Homo sapiens: one gene and its partners. The protein of the gene in region 2 purifies or fractionates together with the protein of the main gene of each other region. This does not show direct contact. Each region holds a gene or a part of one and is shown on either strand. Other genes may lie near its edges.

Evidence for each region.
Region 1: the proteins of ARL13B (region 2) and ANKRD50 purify together in Homo sapiens (affinity purification with mass spectrometry; 4 studies listed by BioGRID and IntAct, with this or other methods). This does not show direct contact.
Region 3: the proteins of ARL13B (region 2) and FASTKD1 purify together in Homo sapiens (affinity purification with mass spectrometry; 3 studies listed by BioGRID and IntAct, with this or other methods). This does not show direct contact.
Region 4: the proteins of ARL13B (region 2) and IFT74 purify together in Homo sapiens (affinity purification with mass spectrometry; 4 studies listed by BioGRID and IntAct, with this or other methods). This does not show direct contact.

What each region holds. Positions count from the first base shown.
Region 1 is NC_000004.12:124,709,711-124,717,066, forward strand, and holds the start of ANKRD50 (ankyrin repeat domain-containing protein 50), read right to left. Parts: upstream 3,023-7,356; 5' UTR 2,748-3,022; exon of another isoform or gene 1,565-2,747; 5' UTR 802-1,564; coding exon 290-801; intron 1-289.
Region 2 is NC_000003.12:94,039,149-94,046,172, reverse strand, and holds part of ARL13B (ADP-ribosylation factor-like protein 13B), read right to left. Parts: intron 6,294-7,024; coding exon 6,185-6,293; intron 3,159-6,184; coding exon 2,933-3,158; intron 1-2,932. UniProt on the Homo sapiens protein: Cilium-specific protein required to control the microtubule-based, ciliary axoneme structure. May act by maintaining the association between IFT subcomplexes A and B. Binds GTP but is not able to hydrolyze fit; the GTPase activity remains unclear.
Region 3 is NC_000002.12:169,570,862-169,578,731, forward strand, and holds the start of FASTKD1 (FAST kinase domain-containing protein 1, mitochondrial), read right to left. Parts: upstream 3,005-7,870; 5' UTR 2,808-3,004; exon of another isoform or gene 2,135-2,807; intron 1,311-2,134; 5' UTR 1,169-1,310; coding exon 792-1,168; intron 308-791; exon of another isoform or gene 143-307; intron 1-142. UniProt on the Homo sapiens protein: Involved in the down-regulation of mitochondrial MT-ND3 mRNA levels which leads to decreased respiratory complex I abundance and activity.
Region 4 is NC_000009.12:26,959,406-26,966,429, reverse strand, and holds part of IFT74 (intraflagellar transport protein 74 homolog), read right to left. Parts: intron 4,482-7,024; 5' UTR 4,463-4,481; coding exon 4,343-4,462; intron 1-4,342. UniProt on the Homo sapiens protein: Component of the intraflagellar transport (IFT) complex B: together with IFT81, forms a tubulin-binding module that specifically mediates transport of tubulin within the cilium. Binds beta-tubulin via its basic region. Required for ciliogenesis.

The DNA of each region.
Region 1 (7,356 bases), on a different chromosome or scaffold from region 2:
TAAGAACAAATTTCCCTTACCATTTATAGGCAATGTAAGTAACATTATGTTATTAAGTAAAATTAAGATACACTTTTAATCCATTTTAATCCATATGCTGTGCAATACCAAAACCTAAATTTTACTTCCTTTGATATTCAAAGTAAACAGGTATACTCATAACTTCAGATTAAGGCCAAATGTACAGCACCAGTAAAAGTAACCCACAAAGTTAAAACAAAAAACTACAACTAAAAATTAATTTAATTTCAGCATAGAAATCTGAACACCATGACATTTTTATTGTTACCTTTTAAATGCTTCGGCTGGGTTTCTCTCGCACTCCCCAGGCTGTAAGAGGCTTTGGACTGCTGGATCCCTTAGCTTGTCCTCATATCCTTGGAGTAGTCCACTGCGGCAGATCTGGGCTACTAGACCTCTAATAAACCCTCCAACACACAAAGTATCAGAGTCCTGGGCTTTGCAGAAATGAAAGGCCAAAGCTTGGCGATGTAAACCTCTCTGCAAACTTGCAGGTGAACTTGGCCATAAGAGTTCAGTACATAGGGCCGTCTTGCCACTGCCAGGCCCTCCTACCAACAACACACCCCAGGCAGCTCCCTTTCCAGAGACACCACTAGCATTATTCCCAGAATTCATTACAAGTGATGGTGCATTGACAGCACTATTGCAGCAGTTACTTTTCTCCTGGAGGCAATGCTGAAGCTTGTGGAAAACCCACTCCCTACAGTAAAACTGCTTCCCTTGCAGTAAACTGGTTTGAGCCATTTTGCAGACTTTCTCTTCCCAAGGATTAGTCATAACGGGTTTTTTATCTTCATTTGCTAGAGTCTGGATACATCAACACAGGTCTTTCCATCCATTATGACATAACTTGTATATTAAGTTGACTCTGAAGACAGAGTAACTAGTTACAGTAAAATTCAACAGCCACAGAGTTCCTCTGTCAACAGAACGTGCATGACTTTATTTGGTTCCTTATTCTTGATCAGCAGTCTATGTATTAGTTGTTGAACTGAGGGAGAAACGCCTGATTCCACAGCTCAGCAACACTTTTCCTAAATTTTAATGAGTCACATAACTCCATGGTTATAACTGGAGTTTATGTGATTGTGGATGTTTCAAGAACAGAGATGAGACAATACATGTGGAAAACTAAAGAAAAAACCCAATCTTTCAATTTGTACAAAATGCTTCTCCAGATTCCAAGTGTTAATTCTGCATCTGACAATTAGATTCTGAAAAGAGGTCCACTGCATTAAATGGCATCAGAGAGATTACATTTATACGGTATGAGGTACAGTATGTAAGTAGCTCTGTATTTCTCGTTGAAGGATGATCACTCAAGAGTACTAGATCGTGCCAGTTTCAGGCATCTGGGCAACTGCCAGGAACTGTTTCAGATTATAGTCTCTTATGTGGCAGAAATGACAACCACTGTTAACACCTTCTTAATTCAAAGCATTCATAATATGCATTTTTCAAGACAGCAGATTCTTAATGAACCTGTTCACAGGTTTCTTGGTTTTAAGACGTCCGGGTAATCAACAATTTCCACAAGTAACTAAAATAAAACAAACAAAAATACCTCAGTGCAAAATATCATATGTTAAAAACTTATTAAGGACAATAAAGGTTGCAGTGTACCAGTTAACGTAATCTCAAAAATCCACGTACTTCACCTTTGGCACTTTCAAAAAGTTGGACAAAAACCACTGAAATAATCACATTCTCCCTTCTGCATTTTTCTTCCTCATTGTTATGCTTCCCAAACAGCCACATTTTAATCAAGTTACCCAAGATTTTTGCAACTTCACCATAGCAAAGGAGGGGGGGAGAAACTTTACGCACATACAGTAACACCCTTAACTCCAGGCAAAACGCTCATTCACAGTAGACTGGTAGAACAGCGCCAGCTAAGGAAGCTCTATTAACTTACACAGTCCAGTCAGTCAAGGACTGTCTACTCCTCCAGCCACACTTCTTTGTTGATAATGTGCAAAAATCTAGGGGAAGATTACCAGGGTTGCAGCTGGATGGGAAACGGTTTAAAAAAAAAAAACAAAAACGATGGGGGATGACTGTTCTTATAAGAATGATAAAGCAAACACAAGTAAAATGTGAATCCTTCCTTCCTCTGGGCCAAGGATGGAGGTCAGGGATAAAATCTACCAGTCTGGCCGGAGAAAAGGCTGCTAGAGAGAAATTCCTTCCAAGACAGGAAAGGGATAAAGAGTAGAGTGCTTCGGTGCTGGTGGGTGTCTGCCCACAGGTCCGGCCTCCAGTTTCAGCTGACAGACAAAAGGAACTCCGGGATTCCCAGCGCCGGGCACCACCTTGGGTTGGAACCGCCCAGAGGAGCCACAGGGGAGCCACCTCAGAGAGGCCACGAGCGAAGGTGCAGCCTCCACACCGAGGTCTGCCCTTCCAGAGGCTGGGAGCGCCTCTGCACCCCGCCCCGCACCGAGATTGGGGTGTGTCTTTTGAAGGGGGAGGGGGTGACTGAGGTCCTTGCCAATCCCAGACGAGGGGTCGCCTCCCGGTCGGCTTCCGCCTCTGCGCTCCCGCCCCATGCCCCGCTCCCGCTCCCACCCGGCCGACGGCGGTGCGAGGGAAGAGGGCAAATCTGGGGCTCGAGGCCGGAGAGGGTGGGTGGTTGGGTCAGGTCCAAGCCACGGCCTCGGCCTCCCAGCTTCCAACCCGAGGGAGGGGCCTCGCTTCCACCGCCGCCGCCGCCCCCCGGTTACCTCGGCCCCAGCCGCCGCCGTGGCCGCCGCTGCCGCTGTTAGGGACTCTCAGTCTCAGACACTTGCTTCGCTGAGAAGTCGCTGCCAGCAGCGCTCCCAAGACTCCACTCCAACTGCAGCCGCCTCCTCCGCCGGGCCCGGGGCACGCTCCCAGCTCCGGATCCTCCTCTTGGCCCCCGGCGGCTGCCAGTTCCAGCTTTCCCAGCAGAATCGGTCGTGCTCGCCCCAGCCCCCACCGGCCAACCGCCGCCGCCGCCGCCGTCAGGGCAGTAACTGTCTCAGGCAGCCCCCGGCCGGCCGGCTCCGCCCCGCCCGCCCAGCCCAGACCCCGCCCCCGCCCCCGCCCCCGCCCCGCCGCTCGGCCTTTCTTTGCCCGCCGGCTCCGCCTCCGCGTCCTTCCCCTCCCCCACCGCGCTCTCCCGCAGCATCCCGTGCCTGGGCGTGTGCGGCCGCCTGGGACCCGCTGCCGGCGCGGCGGGGAGACCTGTCTCGGGGCGGCGTGGGGGCCCCGCCTTTCTCAGGGGAGGCGGAGAACGGGGCGGGGGCTGCGTTCTCACGTCTCCGAGCTCACGCGAGTCGTTGCCCCCACCCTCCCCGTCACCACTGGGCCCTGATCCTTCCTTTGTCTTCCAGGCCGGAGGGACTCGCCGGCTGTTGGTGCCGTATCTGCTCCTGGGAGGGGCAGTTGGGTAGGGGGAGATTGCCTCTTGCCTCTCTCTGCTCAACCCTTTTGCCTCTCCCTTAACCCCGTTGCTTCCAAAGCCACTTCGGGCCCCGTTCTACCCCTCAGTCGTCCGGTCTCCTTTCAGTCCATTAAATTCCAGGGATGCTTTTACTTTGGCTGGGACGAAGAGAAGGAAGGAAAAGACTGGGAAGAATGTTGCGAAAATAGAAATAGTGGGGGTATACAGCGACATTCCTACCAGCCTCATGAAAAGGACGTGGCCTCCATCAGATGGAGGTTGACAGCAGGCTTGACTGGGTCTCAGGCCCCTGCTCCTCAGGGCCACTTGATCACCCGCAGCGTCCACTAGGGGGGAAGGTCTTGGTCATGTGGCGTCAGGAAATGCCCTAGAGGGCCTGCTCACAGGGGCCTGTTGGACTAAGCATGTCAGTTGTTTGCACTTACTGGACCTGAGTTGCTTAGATTCCAAATTTCTCCCGGGAAAATAAGTATACCGTCAACTGATGGAATAGGAAATGTAGCATTTTTTATTTTAATTGTTTATGCTAAAATCCAGAGTGCTCTATTTCCCATTCCTCATTAACTTGCATGTGGTTATTTGCCAAAATATTAAGCCAGTCTCCCATCTAGTTTTAGAAATTTCATAGTATAGCTATCACAATAAGAAAGATGGATAAACAAATAGATCGTGTTTGTGCTTACTCTTTCATATTGTTTATTCGTGCCAATTGAGGTTTACTGATCTTAGTATTTAATTTTAATTCATGTACCCTGAATTTTGGGCTTCTTTCCTAAAACACAAGCAAAAGAGGCAGAGTATAAATTCTCCAGAATTAGGGGGATGAAAATTGATTTTTAAAAAGCTACAATTTTTATTTATTTTTGCCTAAGCTGTTTTAATTCCCACTTAGCTTGTTTGCCACGCAGCTTTATAGTCATTGAACAGGTTGACTCCTTCAGTTTCATGGTTGTAAAATTTTATGTTTAGAGGAAAATTTAAATGAGAAATAATGTATATCACATTATCATTTCTATTAAGCCGTTTGCTAACACAATAATTAAAATAATTTCTGCCCAGTAGAGAAGTTACCGAAACTTTTTGTTTAGTGGGCCTCATTTATGATAACTAAGCAGTATCATGGAATGCTGTTTTAAATAACATCAGCTGTAACTAAGCTGTAATTAATCTTCAGACCTATTTAGAATTTTGTTTTTTGCTTTAAAATTTATTTCACATTTTATTTTTATTGCTTTTTGCTTTTTTTAATAGAAAACCCTTAACAGTGACGTATATGTATATATACACACATATATAATTTTATGAAACTTCTTTTTATCAATTACCTAAATGTTAAACGTGGCATAAGCAGAATACTTACTCTTGGTACATATTCACATACTTTAATCAGTTTCTTAGTTGTATTTTCTCCAATACCAGATACTCGCATTTTTCCAAAGAATGCAATTTTTTTCAATGTGGCCTTTCTTATTTTTAATTTGTTCATAAAATTTCCTGAAATCATCACAGTTTCACATAAATTTGAAATTACTGACAGCTTTAACGAATGCTTCTCTGAAGACTATAATGTTTTAAATGGAAAATTAAGTGGTGAGATACGTATTAAGCTCAAAACACACTCTGCTAAATAAAATATATTCTCCATTCTAATTTCTCTATATTGAAATGTACAAATTTTTCAGTTCAAATCTTTTCCTAGCTGTTGTATTTTTTTAAACCTCACTCAGTTATATTGTGCAACAAGTGTTTTTACAAAACAAAGCTCATTATATAAGTCTTGAAAATGTACGTTTATTTTGATGGTATCAATCAAGTTTAAATACTACAAAATTATGTCATCTCAATTTTAATCCATTTAGATACAAAATATAGTTTCATCCAATTAAAAGCAACAGCTCCATCAAAAGATTCCACAAGTTGAGATATTCCAAAGCACAATTCTAAGTTTCAAAAATTACGTCTTTTATAATGTCTGTGTTTTCATCATCGAGTACATTCAGTTCCTTGTTTGGTAGAGGTAAATTTGAATTTCTTTATATTTGCAAGTTCTGTAATAATTATAGCAATACCTGAAAGCTACAAAATTTGAAATCTATGACTTTAGAGTTCTAATGATTTTACATGAAAGGCTGTGAAAATTTAGAGGACTCATTTTAGTCCTCTAAATTAACTTGTGTAAGTCACTCAGGTTTATTTACAAAGTGATGTTTTATGCTTGGCAGTCTTTCAGGTTATGCCACAAATTTAAAGAACTCTGCATTATACAAAAAGAGTTCAGCCTACTTGCTATACTCTACTACAGGATAAGTCAGTCTCTATTTCACATATTTCAGATATACCTCACATGTAATTTTCTCCATTTACTACTGATTCTCAGAAGTGGCTTCTTGCACGTGGAAGGCAGCTGCAGCAAGCCAGGGCACACTGAACTGCTATGCCACGTGTCTAGCAGGATCAGCAGCCTTGAGAGTTTCTCTGGTTACTACCAAGCCCAGGATTTGGTATATATTATATGTATATGTATATGTATATGTATATGTATATGTATATGTATATGTATATGTATATGTATATGTATGTATATGTGTATGTGTGTATATGTATATGTTTATGTATCAACCACCCATATCAAGCTATATTTTATTTTTTCAACTAGCAGTCTGCATACTGTCCTTCAAAGGATAGTTACTTTGAATCTGGAAAAGAGTTATTACTGGCAGCCTTTCAGATTTCCCCACAAATTTAAAGAACTCTGTTTATTTCATCTCATATACTATTTGAGGAGACCATGGCAGAAGCTGGAAATAACGAAGGTCCACCAAACCATTATTGTAATGCTACTATTAATAACATTGTTATGTTTACATAAATACACATTTTGTTAGTATGTTCACTGGACTTGATGTGGACCTAGACTATAGAAAAACTTTGATTGACATGGGAGGCATAATGATAGGAACGTCCAGCTGTGGCTACCCTCTTAAATACCCTTTTAAAAGAATGCTTATTTAAGCCTTACATTTTAAAAGTAATTGTTGCCAGCTGTATTCATTCCTGTTCTTGAAAACAAGCCTAAAAATAGCTGTTGCTTATAAAATGTGTAAGATATAGGCCTTTTCTTCAAAGAGTTAAACAAATCCCCAAATAAGATTTATTTTGCACAATTACCAGTGAAGGGAAATAAAGACTCATTGGCTATGGTTATTAGGTGGCTAGTTACAACGCTTCACCTTTACCCTTCACTTTTTCCCATGCTCCTAGATAGAGCAAAAGCTCTTAGTAGACCCCAAAATTACACCAACAGTACACATGACAGCATGGATCTGAAATTCATATTCTCTTTCACCTCAAATATGCAGCAAGAAATTTAAAGAAGCAAATTAGGATTATCTAACATGTCCCTCTATTGGATTCCCAGAACCACTTTTTCCTACCTTTTCTTCTATGAGTCTATATGTAGTTTAAATGACCTCCCTACACCAACCACGAAGTCACCTTTTCATCAAATCTCACCCTTTCATCAAATCTCAGATGCCAATAAATACCCTCCATGAAGTATTCTTTGAACTATATTTTAAATATCCAAGAACTGATGAAACTGGCTTAGTAATAACTCATATCCCCGAGTCCTGTGTCAGTCATATGGTCACACGCAATAATAGCAATAATTACATGTAATTATATTAATTTGAAAATAATTCAGTGTCATATGTGAAGGTAAACTTTCTCAATTATGTCCCCTATGCATCCTTTGACTGGATTTTGGTGAATCATTAGATAAATTAATCACTTGCCTTGCTGCAGATAATTTATTCCTTTGACAGATTCCCAAGTAAATGAGAGATACTATTTCACTTATTGTCCTCAGACTCTCTGTTTTGTAGAACCACATAGTATTTTTTCTT
Region 2 (7,024 bases):
AAATGTATCAATCTTTATACTATAAATATGTGCAGTTTGTTGTAAGTCAATTATACCTCAATGAAACTCATTAAAATTACCATATTTTGGGGATCTATTTCTAGAATCTCTATTGTGTTTTATTGATCTCTGTGTCTATCCTCTAGTCAATACTATACTGTTATGATCACTGTGGTTTTATTTTATAGTATGTCTTTTTTTTTTCTTTTTTTTTTTTTTTTTGTGATGGAGTCTTGCTCTGTTGCCCAGGCTGGAGTGCAGTGGCACCATCTCGGCTCACTGCAAGCTCTGCCTCCCAGGTTCACGCCATTTTCCTGCCTCAGCCTCCTGAGTAGCTGGGACCACAGGCGCCCACCACCACGCCTGGCTAATTTTTTGGATTTTTAGTAGAGACGGGGTCTCTACTGTGGTCTCGATCTCCTGTCCTCGTGATCCTCCCGCCTCAGCCTCCCAAAGTGTCGGGATTACAGGTATGAGCCACTGTGCCCGGCCACTACTTTATAGTATGTCTTAAATTGGGTAGTATGAGTCTTTAACCTTGATCTTTCTTCAAAATTGTTTTGGGTATTCCAGTCCTTTACTTTTACATATATTTTATAATGAACTTGCCTATATCTACAAAGACTCATGCTGGGATTTGTTTGGAATTGCCTTAAATCTACAGATCAGTTGGGGGCTCTGGCATTTTAACTCTTTTTTTTCTTTCTTTCTTTTTTTTTTTTTTTAGTATTTATTGATCATTCTTGGGTGTTTCTCGGAGAGGGGGATGTGGCACGGTCATAGGATAATAGTGGAGAGAAGGTCAGCAGATAAACACGTGAACAAAGGTCTCTGGTTTTCCTAGGCAGAGCTCCCTGCAGCCTTCCGCAGTGTTTGTGTCCCTGGGTACTTCAGACTAGGGAGTGGTGACGACTCTTAATGAGCATGCTGCCTTCAAGCATCTGTTTAACAAAGCACATCTTGCACCGCCCTTAATCCATTTAACCCTGAGTTGACACAGCACGTTTCAGAGAGCACAGGGTTGGGGGTAAGGTTATAGATTAACAGCATCCCAAGGCAGAAGAATTTTTCTTAGTACAGAACAAAATGGAGTCTTCTATGTCTACTTCTTTCTACACAGACACAGTAACCATCTGATCTCTCTTTCTTTTCCCCACATTTCCCCCTTTTCTTTTCGACAAAACCGCCATCGTCATCATGGCCCGTTCTTGATGGTCACTGTCTCTTCGGAGCTGTTGGGTACACCTCCCAGATGCGGCGGCGGGCAGAGGCGCTCCTCACCTCCCCGACGAGGGGCGGGCAGGCAGAGACGCTCCTCACTTCCCAGACGGGGCGGCCGGGCAGAGGCGCTCCCCACTTCCCAGACGGCGCGGCCGGGCAGAGGCGCTCCTCACTTCCCATTCGGGGCGGCCGGGCAGAGGCGCTCCTCACCTCCCAGACGATGGGTGGCCGGGCAGAGGCGCTCCTCACTTCCCAGACGATGGGCAGCCGGGCAGAGGCACTCCTCACCTACCCGATGGGGCAGCCGGGCAGAGGCGCTCCCCACTTCCCAGACAGGGTGGCGGCCGGGCAGAGACGCTCCTCACCTCCCAGATGCGGTGGCGGCCAGGCAGAGGCGCTCCTCACCTCCCAGATGGAGCGGCCAGGCAGAAGCGCTCCTCACTTCCCAGACGGGGCAGCCAGGCAGAGGCGCTCCCCACTTCCCAGACGGGGTGGCCGGGCAGAGGCGCTCCTCACTTCCCATTCAGGGCAGCCGGGCAGAGGCACTCCCCACTTCCTAGATGGGGTGGCGGCTGGGCAGAGACGCTCCTCACATCCCAGACGGGGTGGCGGCCGGGCAGAGGCGCTCCTCACCTCCCAGACGGGGCGGCCGGGCAGAGGCGCTCCTCACTTCCCAGACAGGGCGGCCGGCCAGGGGCGCTCCTCACATCCCAGATGATGGGCGGCCAGGCAGAGACACTCCTCACTTCCTAGACAGGGTGGCAGCCAGGCAGAGGCGCTCCACACTTCCCAGATGGGGCAGCCGGGCAGAGGGGCTCCTCACATCCCAGACGATGGGCGGCCAGGCAGAGACGCTGCTCACTTCCTAGACGGGGTGGCGGGCAGGCAGAGGCTGTAATCTTAGCACTTTGGGAGGCCAAGGCAGGCGGCTGGGAGGTGGAGGTTGTAGCGAGCCGAGATCACGCCACTGCACTCCAGCCTGAGCAACATTGAGCGTTGAGTGAGCGAGACTCCGTCTGCAATCCCAGCACCTCGGGAGGCCGAGGTGGGCGGATCACCCAAGGCCAGGAGCTGGAGACCAGATCGGTCAACATGGCGAAACCCCATCTCCACCAAAAATACAAAAACCAGTCAGGAGTGGCGGCGCGTGCCTGGAATCCCAGGCACTCGGCAGGCTAAGGCAGGAGAATCACAGGAGCCCGAGGCAGGGAGGTTGCAGTGAGCCGAGATCATGGCAGTACAGTCCAGGCTCGGCAAGAGAGGGAGACTGTAGAAAGAAAGAAAGAAAGAAAGGGGAGGGGGGAGGGAAGGAGAGGGAGGGGGAGGGGAGGAGGGGGAGGGGGAGAGGGGGAGGGGGAGGGAGAGAGGGGAAGAGGGAGAGGGGAAGAGGGAGGGGGGAGGGGGAGGAGGGGGAGGGCTATTCCAAGGATTCTTGAGAGCTATGCTGTATCCCAAATTTATGAAAATAAAAATGGAATTTTCTGCTGAAATCCTTATAAGTTACAAAGGACCACATTTTAAGTCATGGAAAAACAGGTTAGGAACAAACTGAATAATAAAAGACCTTGAGAAAATCATGGTAAATATGGCATTTGAAGACAGAAAAATATTGAAGTACTCGTTTGTAAAAACAAACATAAAAAATGAGATGAAGTATAAGTTTTATTTATATATACATAAGATAATTACTTTAAATAACTAGATTTATTACCTGATTCCAATGATGGCCGGTCTGTCTCATCTTCATTCTTTAACTGCTGTGTTAATGCCTCCTTATAATTTTCTACTAGTCCAAATTCATTATTTTTTTGGCCATTGTGATTAACCTGGCCTTGTGTCTCTATTTGCTCATGCTCCATTTTATGTTTCAGGTGGCAGCCATCACTGTCTTTCTCCATTTTTTGGTTTTTTTTCTCTCTTTCAAGTTTTCCTTCATTCTAACAAAAAATAAAATACATTATCTTTACTATGATGGTTTTATCTAAGATAGTTTTAAGGGAGAGGAAATCAAATACCTTAACAGGATTCTGTAACTTCAAGGACACTGTGAGACTTCTATTTTAAAAATGATTTCATGAATACATCATTAAAAGATGCTAAATGTCAAACATTCAGTAAAACAGAAAGTATAACAAAAGCAAACAAATATTACCAGTAATTCCACAATCTAGAGATGACTACTATTCATCTGTATTATTCCGTATATAATCTGTTCAGTATATAATCACTAAGAGATGATTTTCTCTGCCAACCCCCACACATACATACCTATATCATGTACAGACATACATCACCCAGAAACATACATAAATATATGTATCTATATATACTTATGTATTTGTTGTTTAAACAAAAAAGAATTGAAGTTTTTATTGAAGAATATACATTTCTTTCCATGCCAATGAATATATAAAGTGCTCAGAACAGTGCCTTACACATAGTAAATGCTACATAAATGTTAGATACAATTATTTTCATCAATTATTATTTTGAATGTTTATAGCATACCAATTCTGTATCAATGAACAAAGTATTTCCAATTTTTCACTATTTTAAAAAACAGAATCATCCTAATAGCTTTTTTTTAATTTTTTTAGATTAAATTGCTAACAGTAGAACTGTTGAGTCAGTGGGTAGGCAAATTTAAAAATGTCACATATAGTCACAAACTTCCCTTCAGAAAAAATGAATCAATGAACCTCAGGCAAAGGGTTGGGAGAGTGATTTTTTTCTACATCATATTCAATACCACATATCATGATTGACCTTTTACATCTCTGCCGTATTAATACATATTTTTATTTAACTTAGTGTTATTTTCATTTGAGTTTAAGTTAAAATTTTTATTGCCAGCAAAAATGAACTATTATTGAATTATTTTATTTTATTTTTTTTGAGATGGAGTCTCGCTCTGTCGCCCAGGCTGGAGTGCAGTGGCACGATCTCGGCTCACTGCAACCTCCACCCCTCCAGGTTTAAGCAATTCTCTGCCTCAGCCTCCGGAGTAGCTGGGATTATAGGTTCGTGCCACGCCTGGCTAATTTTTTGTATTTTTAGCAGAGACAGGGTTTCACCGTCTTGGCCAGGCTGGTCTTGAACTCCAACCACCTCGGCCTCCCAAAGTGCTGGGATTACAGGCGTGAGCCACCGTGCCTGGCCACTTATTGACATTTTTAATTTTTTTTTAGGAAACTGCCTTTGGTAACCCAATGCCCACTTTTCTATTAGATTCTCATTATTTTCATAGTAATTTGTAAGAGTTCTTTTGTGCATACGTGTCACTAGGACTAGTCACAGAGTCACATAAGACTATGTGTTCTATTTCTCACTAGAGTTTACTTCTTTTCATTTTTGCTTTTTAACTTTGTAGAATAGCTCTTTAAAAATTGGGTAGTATAAGATCTATCCACCTTTTTCCTTTATGATTTGTGGCTTGCTTGTCCTGCTTTGAAATTTTTTCCTCCTCCAAGCACATATAAAGACTTATCTATATTATCTACTAGTAACTTGAAGACTTTCACTTTTTAAAACGTATTTAAGTTTTTGATACTTTTGGAATTTAACTGGGTATACAATATTCAATAATTTTCCTTTTTCTAAATGGTTATTAAGTTGTTCTATTATTTTTTTCTCTCAGATTTGAAATGTTATCTTTATCTTGTACTAAAATGCTCATACATAAATAGGTTTATTAATATTCGTTCCATTGATCTGTCTGTCTCTTCTGGAACCAATACCTTCCAATATCTCACCATTTTAATTATCTGCAGTAATAATAAAAAAAAATGTTAGGTGCTTCTGTACCAAGAAACATGCTAAAAAAGTTTTGTGGGGAAAAAAAGAGAAAATCTGTATGGTTAAAAAAAAAAAACTATAGCTAATTTGCTTTTATTTCTTTACTGGCCATCTTCTTGAAATTGTAGTTTCAAAGCGTTAAGTGTACTTTCCCCATGCCACTTATTAATTTGGGAACTTTCTATATGTGATATATACTATGTCGTACACCACTATTATTCACTTCTATACATTGTGGGAAATACGGTGCTGGGAGAAGCACTAGAGCCTTCTACACAATTTATACCCATGGTACTATAAAATAATTAGCCATTATTTATAAAGCAAGCCTTATTATACACAGAGAATAATTGTTGTTTCAAAGTAAAAAGTACAACTTGACCTCTTCTCTCTCAATATTTTTAAAAGAACATAAAACAAAACTTGACAAATATAATATCTGATAGAATGGAGACAAAAAAAAAAAAAAACCTTCCAGGTAGGACCAGGAAGTCAGCCTAAGGTTTAGGAAGCAATGCCTCAGAAGAGGCATCGCTGCTGCCAGCCATAAAAGCAGAGCCAATGCAAACTCTGGACATGAGCAGAAAATGAAAACAAAAACACAGACGCGCACACACACAACCCCTTAACGTCTTCATAATTAAAATCTACAAATTAATGTTGGTAAAATTTCTGATTTAAAATGGAAATAAATGATATTCAGATATAGGAGAATTTATTGCAGTTTCAAACATCCTTAAGTATCCTGGAAAAATAGAAAATTGTTTATGTACCCTAATGCATTCTAAGTAAATATTGCAGATGGACAGTAACAGCAATACAGAAACACAGAAAATGTAAATAAGAGTAAATATGTTATTACTATATGAAATAAATGACAGAATAGATTTGTCAACACAGCAACTATAATAATTGCTACAGTCAAATTTATTTATTGTCATTTAATTCTGAAGTCATATTCCCCCTTTCACACTAGATTCAAAGGTAATTTAAGAGTAAGAAAAAGCAGTAAACCTTTAATCAGTCTCTCATGTTTAATTTCTTATAGAAATAATCTCTCAGAAGAAACACATCTGTTTCCCTGCCTCCTTTCCCAACTTTCCACCTTCTTTTCCAAGTTCCAACTTATAACTTAAGATACAAAAATTACATTTGCCATCATTCATACCTCAATGATTACAGATGCTATTGGCTGGAAAGGATTCGTTGGTTCTGGGTCCAACTCAGCCAGACCACTGGTTCCATCGAGTTCAGCCTGCTCCTGTTCATTTTGTTTTCTATCGTTTGAGGAAAAATAATTGAAATTTCCTTTGAGAAAGTGCTGAACCATGTTAAAGAAAACTGCAATAGGTATAAGGCTATTACATGTAGTAATTTAAACATCTGGACATGGTTTTGAATTACTGAGAGCATTTCAAAAATCCTTATGCAGGTAAGAGGCTGCTTCCTCCCATGTAAAGACTAATCATTTCAATTAAAAAAATGCTGATAAAAATGACATTTCCTATGAGTGACTTCTTAATATCAACAGTGCAATTATTCTTCCATGTGCCAAGGGTATTACTGATCAACTTATTAATTACCCTCCAAAATCAATGCTGTCCTCTTTACTGGTGTTAACAAATAGTAATTATTCTTTTTTTTTTTTTTTTTTTTTGAGTCGGAGTCTTGCATTCTCGCCCAGGCTGGAGTGCATTGGCACCATCTCGGCTCACTGCAAGCTCCACCTCCCGGGTTCACGCCATTCTCCTGCCTCAGCCTCCTGAGTAGCTGGGACTACAGGCGCCCGCCACCAGGCCTGGCTAATTTTTTGTATTTTTAGTAGAGACGGGGTTTCACCCTATTAGCCAGGATGGTCTCGATCTCCTGACCCTGTGATCTGCCTGCCTCTGCCTCCCAAAGTGCTGGGATTACAGGTGTGAGCCACCGCGCCCAGCCAAATAGTAATTATTCTTATTAATTCTTTTCTTAAGGGCTAAGTCTTCTCTTACAAAACTAGGAAAACATT
Region 3 (7,870 bases), on a different chromosome or scaffold from region 2:
GGCAGGGTTTCACCATGTTGGCCAGGCTGGTCTTGAACTCCTGACCTCAGGTGATCCACCCACCTCAGCCTCCCAAAGTGCTGGGATTACAAGTGTGAGTCACCACACCCGACTGGCATTAATCTTAAATCTAACTGCTTACCTACTATATCCTCATCTGCAGCCAACCACATTTTCACAAAACTCCACAATAATCCAATTTCAAATGCCCACAGTTAACAATAGTATTACAGTTGTTAAAGGAGAATTGCTTGAACCTGGGAGGCGGAGGTTGCAGTGAGCCAAGATTGTGCCACTGTACTCCAGCCTGGTGACAGAGCAAGACTCCGCCTCAAAACAAAACAAAACAAAACAAAAAAATTAGATTATCAGGAAAACTACTGGTGAAAAAAATTATTTTTCATTTTGAAGAGATTTTTAGACCTGGCACAGTGGCTCACGCCTGTAATCCCAGCATTTTGGGAGGCCGAGGCATGCGGATCACAAGGTCAGGAGATCAAGACCATCCTGGCTAACATGGTGAAACCCCGTCTCTACTAAAAATACAAAAAAATTAGCCGGGCGTGGTGGCAGGCGCCTGTAGTCCCATTGACTCGGAAGGCTGAGGCAGGAGAATGGCGTGAACCTGGGAGGCAGAGCTTGCAGTGAGCCGAGATCATGCCACTGCACTCCAGCCTGGGCGACAGAGACTCCTCAAAAATAAATAAATAAAATGAAAATAAAGAGATTTTTAGAAAATTAAAATGTAAACTATATAATCATTCCATAAAATATAAAAGTAAATTACTTACTGTTGTGTGACGTATAACACATTCACCAGGGTATCGTCATTCATTAATTTGAATTTATTTGTAGCTAAATTATGAAGAGTAAGAAATTGAGGATGGTCTCTGACATACTCAGCATTTTTTAACAGGCTGGTCTTCTGCTTTTGAAGCTTCCAAAGCATATCAAATGCACATCCCACTTGCTTTTCTGAAAGTATGGCTTTGTTTCTTTCAATAAAACCAAACATTTGCTCCTCATCTGTACACTTATTCATCTGAATAATTAGTGGTTCACAACTGATGGGTCGAAATTGAAACACTCTCCAGGAGAATGGACAAATAGCTCTTAGACGAAGCATATTTGTAACCAATGACTCTAGGAAAACAGGTGTTTTTTTCATTTATATCACAAGTTTTCTTAGGTAAACAAAACCATCTGCAACTAGTCGTCAGGTGCAATAAGCAGGGATACAAATAACAGTTTTTCCTTCATGTATTTTGCTTCCATTACAATGACTGTAAACGCATTCCAATGTACAGCTTCTATAAAAGAATTGGTTTAACATGGTTATGCTTACATCATTAATATCAAAATGATTCCAAAATTCAAATTAAAGTAATACATTTTTTCTGCATTAACTAAAGACTTTTTCTTAGTCTAAACCAGATAGCAGAATTTGATCAAAAAATAAATGTCCAGAAAAAGGGGCTTCTTTCTGCACCCCATTTTAAAAGTGTTTTAAATCTGACATTTACATAAAGTTTTCAAATTTACCATAAAAGGAAAAAAAAAGCCCACAAACTCAGAGCTGTCTTTTCGAAAAAGAGGAAAATTGTTTAAAATAAATAATCACCTTCAAAGTTTCTAAAAAGTGTAGGCATTAATTCAGAGCCATATATATTTATACATACATATATATATACTTTTTTTTTTTAATTTTTCAGAAGTATGGTCTCAGGTTTATTTGCTTTCAGGATAATTTCTTGCCCCTTTTTCTTGTGCCCTTAAAGAGCTCAAATAATTCCTTTCTTTAGAAAATAAATAAATAAAAGAAGTCATATAATTTAATCATTACTGGCCTTGGATAGGTTTTAACCAATGAACGACACAATTAAAGCACCAATCAAGAAATACTAAGAAATTAAGTAATGTTTCAAGTCATGCTGAAACAATAAAAGAACTAAAGATAATTATGAAAAAAGAATAATTTGTTTTAAAAATATGCTATAAATGTTTACATTTATAATTGAGAAGTAATGGTTAGAAAAGCAGGGACTAAAGTCATATAATCTAATATTTCTGCAACATGTTACCATTTACAAAGAACGTTTGAAACACATTATCTCATTAAATTCTCTCAGCTAACCTTCCAGGTTGATATTATTTCCATTTTACAGATAAGGCAAAATAGGTTCAAAAAGGTTTAAAAAATCCTTCTAGTACTAGTGAAGCAGGGACTACAACTCAGTTCTTTCCACTTGAACAGCTTCATTACACAAACAAATCAACGCTGTATCACTAAATTCATGTCTCAGACCCCTCTCTACGGCTATGCCAAACAGTCTGTTCACAAGAAAAAACGACGCGACAGTACAGGCTATTTTGTGGCAAGCAGTACAGCATCCTGACCTAAGCTGACCTGGGTCACAAACCTGCACAAGAAAACCCTGCACAAATCAAAGGTATCCTCAAGATACTATATTCATCCACTGAGCTGCTCAAAGTGGAGGCAGCTCAATGGTTAGCATAGAAAGGTGTCGAGTCCCCAGCTTTGCCCCAGCTGAATGACCTTAAGGAAGGAACTTAACTACAGGAAGGGCCTTGGGACCCTAAGGGGTATCTTCTGCGCCGGGCATAAAGGAGAGCTAAACAAATGAGTGAATGAATGGGGTCTCAGCCCTGCCCTAGTCCATCCGCACTTCAGAGAACCCAATATCCCGAAGGAAGCCTCCGTATCTCAACTGAACCCTATGTCCCCAGCCCGAAAACGTGCTGGGTGGGAAAAGAAAAATAGCCGCTGCCACACAGTCCCGACTTGCCAGCAAGGTTTTCCCTCAGCGCGCCGCAAATTTTCTGGAGGATCCTGGGGTTATGAAAGCTCAGAAGTCAGGGTTATTCCTGGTCCCAACACGGAACGAAACAGGCTCGGATGTCTCGCCCAACCCTCATATCTCAGGGTTTATAACCTTTCTTCGAGAGACATGACCTTTCCCATGAGACCTTGCCCCCAAACCAGGAAAAAATGCCCGGCAGGCGCAGCGTGCACTGCGGAAGTCACGCACTACATATCCCAGGGTGGGTCGCGGCGAGGTGGGTGAAATGGACGTCGCTCACGCATTTTGGGGGAATTCTGGGCATTGTAGTTCCTCATTGAGGGAGGCTCTAGCGCAGTACACAGCTTAAGCTGTTGAAGAAGATATAGGTCGTTTAGGTGATTCTCTACTATCTAAGGTTGTTCTCCTAGTCCTTGGAAGTCTACTACTTTTATAATATACACAAAAATATACTTAGGAAAATGAAATTTAAAAATGTAAACATGGAAAAGACACGTACAGATTTTTCTTATTATTTTTTAGCATATACGAAATAACTCTGTCGAGTAACTTTGAAAGTATGCAAACTCATACTCTCAGTTTCTGCACTTATGTCGTGGATAGGTACCAGTTCTCAGACCATATTTTTTTTTTACTTACCATGGTATTTTAATAGTCCCAAGATTTGACACTTGACACTTAAAAAAAAAATACCACTAATAAATAACCAAAGTGGAATGCTTACCAAAGTTACAACAGACATAATTTTCAGCTGATAATCACTACAACAAAGTAAGGCTCTAAAGGTACCAAACTGATATTTGTTGGAATATGCTGTGCAACTTTCTTTTTTTTATTTTATTTATTTATTTTTTTTATTGATCATTCTTGGGTGTTTCTCGCAGAGGGGGATTTGGCAGGGTCGTAGGACAATAGTGGAGGGAAGGTCAGCAGATAAACAAGTGAACAAAGGTCTCTGGTTTTCCTAGGCAGAGGACCCTGCGGCCTTCTGCAGTGTTTGTGTCCCTGAGTACTTGAGATTAGGGAGTGGTGATGACTCTTAAGGAGCATGCTGCCTTCAACCATCTGTTTAACAAAGCACATCTTGCACCGCCCTTAATCCATTTAACCCTGAGTGGACACAGCACATGTTTCAGAGAGCACAGGGTTGGGGGTAAGGTCATAGATCAACAGGATAAGAATTTTTCTTAGTACAGAACAAAATGAAAAGTCTCCCATGTCTACTTCTTTCTACACAGACACAGCAACTTTCCGATTTCTCAATCTTTTCCCCACCTTTCCCCCTTTTCTATTCCATAAAACCGCCATTGTCATCATGGCCCGTTCTCAATGAGCTGTTGGGTACACCTCCCAGACGGGGTGGTGGCCGGGCAGAGGGGCTCCTCACTTCCCAGTAGGGGTGGCCGGGCAGAGGCGCCCCTCACCTCCCGGACAGGGCGGCTGGCGGGGCGGGGGGCTGACCCCCCCACCTCCCTCCCGGACGGGGCGGCTGGCCGGGCGGGGGGCTGACCCCCCCACCTCCCTCCCGGGCAGGTCGGCTGGCCGGGCGGGGGGCTGACCGCCCCCACCTCCCTCCCGGGCGGGGCGGCTGGCTGGGCGGGGAGCTGACCGCCCCCACCTCCCTCCCGGACGGGGCGGCTGGCCGGGCGGGGGGCTGACCCCCCCACCTCCCTCCCGGGCGGGGCGGCTGGCCTGGCGGGGGCTGACCCCCACCTCCCTCCCGGAGAGGGTGGCTGCCGGGTGGAGACGCTCCTCACTTCCCTGACGGGGCGGCTGCTGGGCGGAGGGGCTCCTCACTTCTCAGACGGGGCGGCTGCCGGGCGGAGGGTCTCCTCACTTCTCAGACGGGGCGGCCGGGCAGAGACGGTCCTCACTTCCCAGACGGGGTCGCGGCCGGGCAGAGGTGCTCCTCACATCCCAGACGGGGCGGTGGGGCAGAGGCGCTCCCCACATCTCAGACGATGGGCGGCTGGGCAGAGACGCTCCTCACTTCCTAGATGGGATGGCGGCCAGGCAGAGACGCTCCTCACTTCCCAAACGGGGTGGCGGCCGGGCAGAGGCTGCAATCTCGGCACTTTGGGAGGCCAAGGCAGGCGGCTGGGAGGTGGAGGTTGTAGCGAGCCGAGATCACGCCACTGCACTTCAGCCTGGGCACCATTGAGCACTGAGTGAACGAGACTCCGTCTGCAATCCCGGCACCTCGGGAGGCCAAGGCTGGCGGATCACTCGCGGTTAGGAGCTGGAGACCAGCCCCGCCAACACAGCAAAACCCCATCTCCACCAAAAAAATACGAAAACCAGTCAGGCGTGGCAGCGCGCAGGCACTTGGCAGGCTGAGGCAGGAGAATCAGGCAGGGAGGTTGCAGTGAGCCGAGATGGCAGCAGCACAGTCCAGCTTCGGCTCGGCATCAGAGGGAGACCGTGGAAAGAGAGGGAGAGGGAGACCGTGAGGGAGAGGGAGAGGGAGACCGTGGGGAGAGGGAGAGGGAGAGGGAGAGGGGGCAACTTTCTTATTGTGTGGGTTACAGAGGAGACTCTTGGTTTATGTGGTCATGGTTATTGTCATAAAACCAGTTTTAGCACAATTTTCTTTTCTTTTCTTTTTTGAGACAGGGTCTCACTCTGTCTCCCAGGTTGGAGTGCAGTAGTGCAATCTCCGCTCACTACAACCTCCGCCTCTTGGGTATAAGCGATTCTCCTGCCTCAACCTCCCGAGTAGCTGGGACTACAGGTGCACACCACCATAGCTGGCTAACTTTTTGTAGTTTTGGTAGCGACAGGGTTTCCCCACGTTGCCCAGGGTGGTCTCGAACTCCTGGGCCCAAGCAATCCACCCACCTCAGCCTCCCAAAGTGCTTGGGATTAGAGGCATGAACCACCTTGCCCAGCCTAAATTTTCAATAGTTCTGACAGTCTATGCAAAATGTTGAGGCATGCTCACACTGGAAAAAAATTAAAACTTGAAGACTTCCTTCTAGAATGTCCAGTAACCAATATATATTTATTCTGACATTTCTGAAAACAGAGCAAAACGAAATTGAATAGGTGCTGGCATTCATCTGATGTATCAGGTTTATTTTATGACTGACTAGTCTTAATACTCCTAGATGTCGGGGTGTATAGGCAGCAGAACATTTTAAATTTGTTCAAGTAGAATATGGGAAAAATTAGAGTCAAATGAGAATACATTTTTTGTCTACTGTCAGTAACCTTCAATTAACCATGAAGACATAGGGAATGAATGGTTAAGCCATCAAAACTAAAATAGTTGTTTGTTTGTTTTTTCGAGATGGAGTCTCAGTCTGTCACCCAGCCTGGAGGGCAGTGGCCCAATCTCAGCACACTGCAATCTCCACCTCCTGGGTTCAAGCAATTCTTCTGCCTCAACCTCCCAAGTAGCTGGGACTACAGGCATGCACCACCATGCCCAGCTAATTTTTGTATTTTTAGTAGAGAAGGTGTTTCACCATGTTGGTCAAGCTGGTCTCAAACTCCTGACCTCAAGTGATCCCCCAGCCTTGGCCTCTCAAAGTACTTGGATGACAGGCGTGAGCCACTGCACCTGGCCTGATTGGATTTCTTCACTAAAAACTTGATTGGTCATTTGACTTCCTTTATCAGGAGGCTGCTAAGACATAGAAAGTCTCTGATAGCTGGGTCTTAAAAAAAAAAGAAAAAAGAAAAAAAGAAGTTAACTTTCGTTTCAAGTCTTGTAAAATTTCCTAGCTTTCTTAGGTTGCCAATATTTACATTGGGGAATACGGTCTACTTCACTTTTTGGTTTGGAGATGAACATTTACTCATTAAAAAATTGTTTCCCTCAACCAAAGAGCCGTGGTTTTGAGATCTGATACCAATGATGTCCTCGTGAGTTTTATTGCTCTTCTTCTCAAGTTTTTTTTCTCAATTAAAGGTACAGCCAATCCCATGGCTTGCTTGGTGATTTGTAGCATCTCTGCAATGCACCAAGGGGTATTTTTTCCATCATCTTCGGGATTGCGAATTATAGATCTCAATGTGTGGAAATAGCCACCTGCTTCTTGATGTCTGCAGTGCAATCGCAAGAGCAATAGGTTCAGGACCTATTCCTATGTTTTCTAGGTCTTCTAGACTTAGCCACTGACACTGGTTTACTTTATCAACTTCATCCTCTTAAGAGGTCACAAAGTAGGCAGAGTTAGAAAGCAGCAACAGCACATCACATCTCTGTGAGTAGCACCAAGGAGGGTGCACTCTGAAAACTGTTGCTTTAGCCAAGCCATAAAAATTACAACACAGGCTGGGTGTGGTGGCTCACGCCTGTAATCCCAGCACTTTGGGAGGCTGAGGTGGATGGATCACAAGGCCAGGAGTTTGAGACCAGCCTGGTCAATATGGTGAAACCCCATCTCTACTAAAAAAAATACAAAAATTAGCCGGGCATGGTAGTGCATGCCTGAAGTCCCAGCTACTTGGGAGGCTGAAGCAGAAGAATCAATTGAACCCGGGAGGCGGAGGTTGCAGTGAGCCGAGATGGCACCATTGCACTCCAGCCTGGGCGACAGAGCAAGACTCTGTCTCAACAACGACAACAAAAAAATTACACCACAATACATTTTAATATGAAATAAATTCTACTCCTACTAATTAGTGTTACTTTCATCTTAGCTTCCAATTTTTGCATTAATATTTACATCAGCCAGGCCAGGAACCGTGGCTCACACCTGTAATCCCAGCAGTTTGGGAGGCTGAAGCAGGCAGATCACCTGAGGTTGGGAGTTCTAGACCAGCCTGGCCAACACGGCAAAACCCTGTCTCTACTGAAAAATACAAAAAAAAAAAAAAATTAGCCGGGAGTGGTGACACGCACCTGTAGTCCCAGCTACTCAGGAGGCTAAGGCAGAAGAATCGCTTGAACCTGGGAGGCGGAGGTTGCAGTGAGCCGAGATTGCACCACTGCACTTCAGCCTGGGCAACAGAGTGAGACTCTGTCTCAAAAAAAAAAAAAAATTACATCAGTCAAACATGATCCTTAGTCAAAAATATGTCATTAACAAAAAGCACTTGGC
Region 4 (7,024 bases), on a different chromosome or scaffold from region 2:
ATCACTGATCATCAGAGAAATGCAAATCAAAACTACAGTGAGATATCATCTCACTCCAGTTAAAACGACTTTTATCCAAAAGAAAGGCAATAGCAAATGCTGACAAATATATAAAGAAAAGGGAACCTTTGTACAGTGTTGGGGGGAATGTAAGTTAGTATAACTACTATGGAGAACAGTATGGAAGTTCCTCAAAAAACTAAAAATAGAACTATCATATGATCCAGCAATCCCACTGCAAAAGGAAAGAAATCATTATTTCAAAAAGATACCTGCATTCCTATGTTTATCACACTACTTGCCACAATAGCGAATATATGAAAAAAAAACCTGACTGTCCATCAATGGAGATGGAGGGCTACGTAAAGAAAATGTGGTATACATGTATATACATATATATACACACACACATATACACATATATATATATACACATACTATGAAACACTACTCTGCCATAATAAAGAAATCATGTCTTTTGCAGCAATATGGTTGGAACCAGAGGCCATGATCCTAAGTGAAACAATTCAGAAAGAGAAAGTCAAATACCGCATGTTCTCACTTATAAGTGGGAGCTAAACAATGGGTACATACGGACATACAGAGTGAGATAACAGACACTAAAGATTACAAAAGATGAGTGGGAGGAAGGTGAGGGTTGCTAAATTACATATTGGGTACAGTGTTCACTATTCAGGTGATGGGTACACTAAAAGCCCACACTTCATCATTACATAATATATGCATGTAAGACAACTGACCTACCCCATGAATACATACAAATTTTAAAATTTTACAAATAAACAGATAACGTGCCTGGCAAATAGTAGGTGGCCAATAAATGTCAGATTCTTTTTATAAATATTTAATTATCAATTTTTACTGGAATAAAAGAAAAAGATACCCTTACTATCCTATGTATGAAGACTTCAGAAAAATTATTTCAGTCTAAGTTGATGACGATGTCCTAATATTATTACCTGAAACTCTAGAAAAAAAATCTGAAAACTTTAGGAAAATCTGACTTTAACAAAATTATTCCCTCCAAAAAATGCTGCTCTTCTTATGAGTTAACCATAGGACCCAACATTATCTGTAGTTTGCACTTAGCCTACTGTAGGAGGTTGAGTATTGGCCCTCTGCACCTTCTCAGTTGAAATCACCTGTGTGAAAATCAGATAAATTTATGGACATTTTTGTCTATTCATTTATTTCCATTTCAATTCTATGTATTTATAAATTTATGTTTTCTATGTTAAATTGATATCACTTTTAAACTTTTGTTAAAGTATATTATTTTCTGAAATATCTTGAAAGTAGTTTGTAATGACTATCTAACAGCCTTTATAGGGATATACATATCATTATTTAAGATTCACCTGTTGTAAGTCTTCTAGGTTGTTTCCCAATTTTTACATTATAATGATAACGAAAATGTAATAATTATCTTTACAGGATATCCTTCTGCTTAGAATATCAACTCATAAACTTCATCTAACTTTTCCTCATATGATGTGTTTCTCTTATTCACTATTTATGACACACTCTCTTATATTAAGCTCTTTAACATTTACTAGAGTTTACCTCCAGGTGCCGTGGCAATCAGAATATTGTTTCACTCATTGTCTATAACATATTTTACATTAGAGTACTGTACTTTTTCTTATTTTTGTGGTATTGTTCTAGATGAGTTTTAGAATAGTTTTATAATATTACCCCTAGCATCAAAAGAAATGTCATGAAATTTTGATTGGACATAAGGCTTGTGGTCTTAATACAGAAAGAGCACTTAAAAATTAGTAAAGTTTACAACAAATGGAAGAACATTCCATGCTCACGGGTAGGAAGAATCAATATCATGAAAATGGCCATACTGCCCAAGGTAATTTATAGATTCAATGCCATCCCCATCAAGCTACCAATGACTTTCTTCACAGAATTGGAAAAAACTACTTTAAAGTTCATATGGAACCAAAAAAGAGCCCGCATCGCCAAGTCAATACTAAGCCAAAAGAACAAAGCTGGAGGCATCACACTACCTGACTTCAAACTATACTACAAGGCTACAGTAACCAAAACAGCATGGTACTGGTACCAAAACAGAGATATAGATCAATGGAACAGAACAGAGCCCTCAGAAATAACGCCGTATATCTACAACTATCTGATCTTTGACAAACCTGAGAAAAACAAGCAATGGGGAAAGGATTCCCTATTTAATAAATGGTGCTGGGAAAACTGGCTAGCCATATGTAGAAAGCTGAAACTGGATCCCTTCCTTACACCTTATACAAAAATCAATTCAAGATGGATTAAAGACTTAAACGTTAGACCTAAAACCATAAAAACCCTAGAAGAAAACCTAGGCATTACCATTCAGGACATAGGCATGGGCAAGGACTTCATGTCTAAAACACCAAAAGCAATGGCAACAAAAGCCAAAATTGACAAATGGGATCTCATTAAACTAAAGAGCTTCTGCACAGCAAAAGAAACTACCATCAGAGTGAACACGCAACCTACAAAATGGGAGAACATTTTCGCAACCTACTCATCTGACAAAGGGCTAATATCCAGAATCTATCTACAATGAACTCCAACAAATTTACAAGAAAAAAACAAACAACCCCATCAAAAAGTGGGCGAAAGACATCAACCGACACTTCCCAAAAGAAGACATTTATGCAGCCAAAAAACACATGAAACAATGCTCATCATCACTGGCCATCAGAGAAATGCAAGTCAAAACCACAATGAGACACCATCTCACACCAGTTAGAATGGCGATCATTAAAAAGTCAGGAAACAACAGGTGCTGGAGAGGATGTGGAGAAATAGGAACACTTTTACACTGTTGGTGGGACTGTAAACTAGTTCAACCATTGTGGAAGTCAGTGTGGCGATTCCTCAGGGATCTAGAACTGGAAATACCATTTGACCCAGCCATCCCATTACTGGGTATATACCCAAAGGACTATAAATCATGCTGCTATAAAGACACATGCACACGTATGTTTATTGCGGCATTATTCACAATAGCAAAGACTTGGAACCAACCCAAATGTCCAACAATGATAGACTGGATTAAGAAAATGTGGCACATATACACCATGGAATACCATGCAATCATAAAAAATGATGAGTTCATGTCCTTTGTAGGGACATGGATGAAATTGGAAATCATCATTCTCAGTAAACTACCGCAAGAACAAAAAACCAAACACCGCATATTCTCACTCATAGGTGGGAATTGAACAATGAGATCACATGGACACAGGAAGGGGAATATCACACTCTGGGGACTGTTGTGGGGTGCGGGGAGAGAGGAGGGATAGCATCGGGAGATACACCTAATGCTAGATGACGAGTTAGTGGGTGCAGCACACCAGCATGGCACATGTATACATATGTAACTAACCTGCACAATGTGCACATGTACCCTAAAACTTAAAGTATAACAAAAAAATAAAAATAAAAAAAAGAAAAAAAGAAAAAAAAAAAAATTAGTAAAGTTTACCTTTTAATTTTAAGATTCTGATCCTATATATGGTATATATATTATAAATGTTTTTACCAGTTGTCATTTCTAATTTTTTATGGTGTTTTATTTTTTGTAAATTCAGATATATAATAAAAATATTTTCCTTTTCAGTACTTGTTATTTCTGTCATGTTTAGAAAGCCTAGCCCATATCAAGTTTATACAGAATACTTGCCAACATTTTCCTCTACTACATTTATGGTTTCATTTTTGAAATACCAAGTTTCTAAGCTATGTAGAATTCTGATAAAAGGTATAAGAGAGGATTAAAAATACTTTTAAACAAATGGTTTAACAATTATTGGAATGTTCTATTGAATGCTCCATGTTTTGCCAACTAATTTGAAACACACATTAATCATTAACTAAATTCTTATATGCTTGATTCTATTTGAGGTCTATTCCATTTCATTTTATTCTGGCCCCAATACACTATTCAACTAAAATTATTGCAGCTTTAAATTGAGTATCTGCAGGAGCAGGCATCTTCTTCCCAGAGTGTCTTTCAAACACTCTTCCACATTTACATTTCCAGATGCTTTCCAAAAAACAAAACAAACATGTTTAATAATATGCTTATGAAATAAAGAAACAACAAAGTAGAATCTCTTATTACAGAGGGGATTTCCAACTTCTACCACAATATATGCACAAGCATTCAACAGATTTTTGAGACAGTCTCAAAAACTCAAAAACTGGGGTGCAGTGGCATGATCAGAGTTCACTGAAGCCCCAGTCTCCTGGACTCAAGTGGTCCTCCCACCTTGGCCTCCCAAAGTAAATAGATTTGTTTCAAACTTACTGCAGTTGCCACTCGAATATTTCCTGATAGGGGTCGTATCCCAGAAGGAGGCCTTCCTGTTAACCCAACTCCACCTCTTGAAACAGGGCGAGCTGCTGAAGATTTGTGATTGCTGGCCATTGTTTCTTCACTTTAATCGCTGTTTGGAAACAATAAATAGTTCAATCCTTTGATGTCTTCTCTAGCAAGACAATAATGACCCATCATACCCTTACATTTAATTCACAACAATTGTTCTTGCAAACTGCCGTTCTGTGTACCACTACAAGGCTAATTTTGTTCAAATATGACATCGTGCTCCATTTACAACTATGAGATTGTTTCTTGCAACATTCCTTCCTCATCTTTCTATTATCTTACCAAAATGCAAGCCCCTCTATTATCTATTTCTTTAGTATTCTCATCCCATACTCTGGTAAATTTTCTCTCCCATCATAGCCAACATCTTTCTTTGCCCCTAATCCTTTCTCTGCACTTTCTGGTCCATGATTAACTCTTATATTCTGAATCTTGTTACAAATACTTTCTATTTTCTTAACTTTAACAGAATCTTGATTTCCCCTGAGAGTAACACTTTCGGTAGTCCAAGTGTTTTAGCTTCCTGTCCCACAATTTTAAAGAAAAGGAGGTGGCACTTTTCTTGCTCCTCAGGGTCACTTTCAAAACATTCTTCCACACCTTTAAAAAAATTAACAAGAGGCCAGGCGCAGTGGCAAACGCGTGTAACCCCAGCACTTTGGGAGGCCAAGGCAGGTGGATCATGAGGTCAGCAGATGGAGACCATCCTGGCTAACACAGGGAAACCCCGTCTCTACTAAAAATACAAAAAATTAGCTGGGCGTGGTGGCGGGTGCCTGTAGTACCAGCTACTCAGGAGGCCGAGGCAGGAGAACGGCATGAACCTGGGAAGCAGAGTTTGCAGTGAGCCGAGATTGCGCTACTGCACTCCAGCCTGGGCGACACAGCGAGACTCCATCCCCCCACCCAAAAAAAAAAAAAAAAAACAAGATTCACTTCTTCTGAGGATCTGGGAATGCAACAATATTGCCTTGATCTTTCCTGGTTGCTGGTAATTAGTGACTTCCTAATCTCTCCTCTATCTTTACTAAAGTCTTTTGTACCTAGTTCACAGCTTCTCTATTCCAATCTCACCATCACCCTGGATGACTTCCATCTAGATACTAGATCCAATACCTAACACTCCAGCTTCACAGTTCCCTGACCTCAACTTTAGCAATGATCTTAACTCCATTTCAGTAATTTATAGCCATGGCGAGACATGGAGCTTGTCATCATCTGGAATTGCTTCACCTCAAACATCTTAATTGAAATACTCTATTCTCTGGTCTTCTCCTCTCCTACCCTTTTCTCATCTTCATTCTGCTACACCTGCCTTTAAACCATTTCCTTAATTCACTCATTCTCTCCCAGTTTATCAGCCCTCTCCTTTATTCATCAGAATATAACATTATTTAAAATTCTGTCTCATAATTTAGAGTAGTAGTTTTCAAATTGTTGGTCACATCCGTTAGTAAGTTCTGAAAACAATTTTGTAGGTTATGACCAAGATACTTAAACGTGAAATAAAATTTAAACAAAAAGAGCTCACTGAAAATATGAAGGGTAAACATTGTTTCAGTAAATTTTTGTTTCAGCTATATTTACATAAATTTACACATATGTGTTTACTGGGCTACAATATAAAAATGTATGTCCTATTGTAGGTCATATAAAATAGTTATGAAGATACTTATCTAGACAAAGAATATGGAGAAAAAGAGAATAGTGCCCAAGATTCTGTCCTGAGGAACATCAATACATACAGATTACACACAAGAGGAAAATCTAGTATGAGAGACTGAAAATTAAGGCCCAGAAAGCAAAGAAAAAAACCAGGAGTGTGTGTCAGAGACGCCAAGAGAAGGCAGGAATCTGAGCCATGCCATTTACGTTGGAAATTCAAGTAAGATGAAAACTGAAATGTCCAATGGAGTCCCCATTCAAGAAGTCACTAGTGATACCTTGACAAGGGTGTTTAAGAACTCTCCTCCTTCTCTCAAGAAATTAGTGTCTCATGAGCACTATCAACTAATTTGTATCCTTGAACTATTCTCCAGCCCATCTGGCAAAATCAGAAACCCTTCTCTACATCCAATCTGAAGTGCTGAACATTGCTGATGGAAATCATACAACTGTACAGACTGGGGTACTGCAAAGTGATAGTCACAAATCTTAGCTGGACCCTCATTTCAGAAATGATTTATCCTTGTTAAGATACTTCTCTACTTGATGATTCTCACCCTTAACTACTTTTCTATTTAACCTCTGTTCCTGCCACTCTCAGCAGATGACTCATTTAAAAAAATTACAACTTGAACTCCATCACCTTTGGGGCACATAAACTTCTCTACATCCATCCTGCCCTCCAGTCTCAACAGCCATTCCTTCTCTCATTCAAGATCAATCTTACTCTGATTTACCCTTGATCCCATCTTTTTTGTGGCATTAACCTCACTGCTACCAATTATCTTTAAACTTTCTCCTTTCCTTCAGTCTGTTACCATGTTCAATTCTTTCCTACCTTCAAAAACTTATTTCTTGATCCTGCAACCACCTCTATCTAACTGTCCCATACATCCTTCCCTTATGCAGCCAAATTCCTAAGAATAGCTTATATCCAGC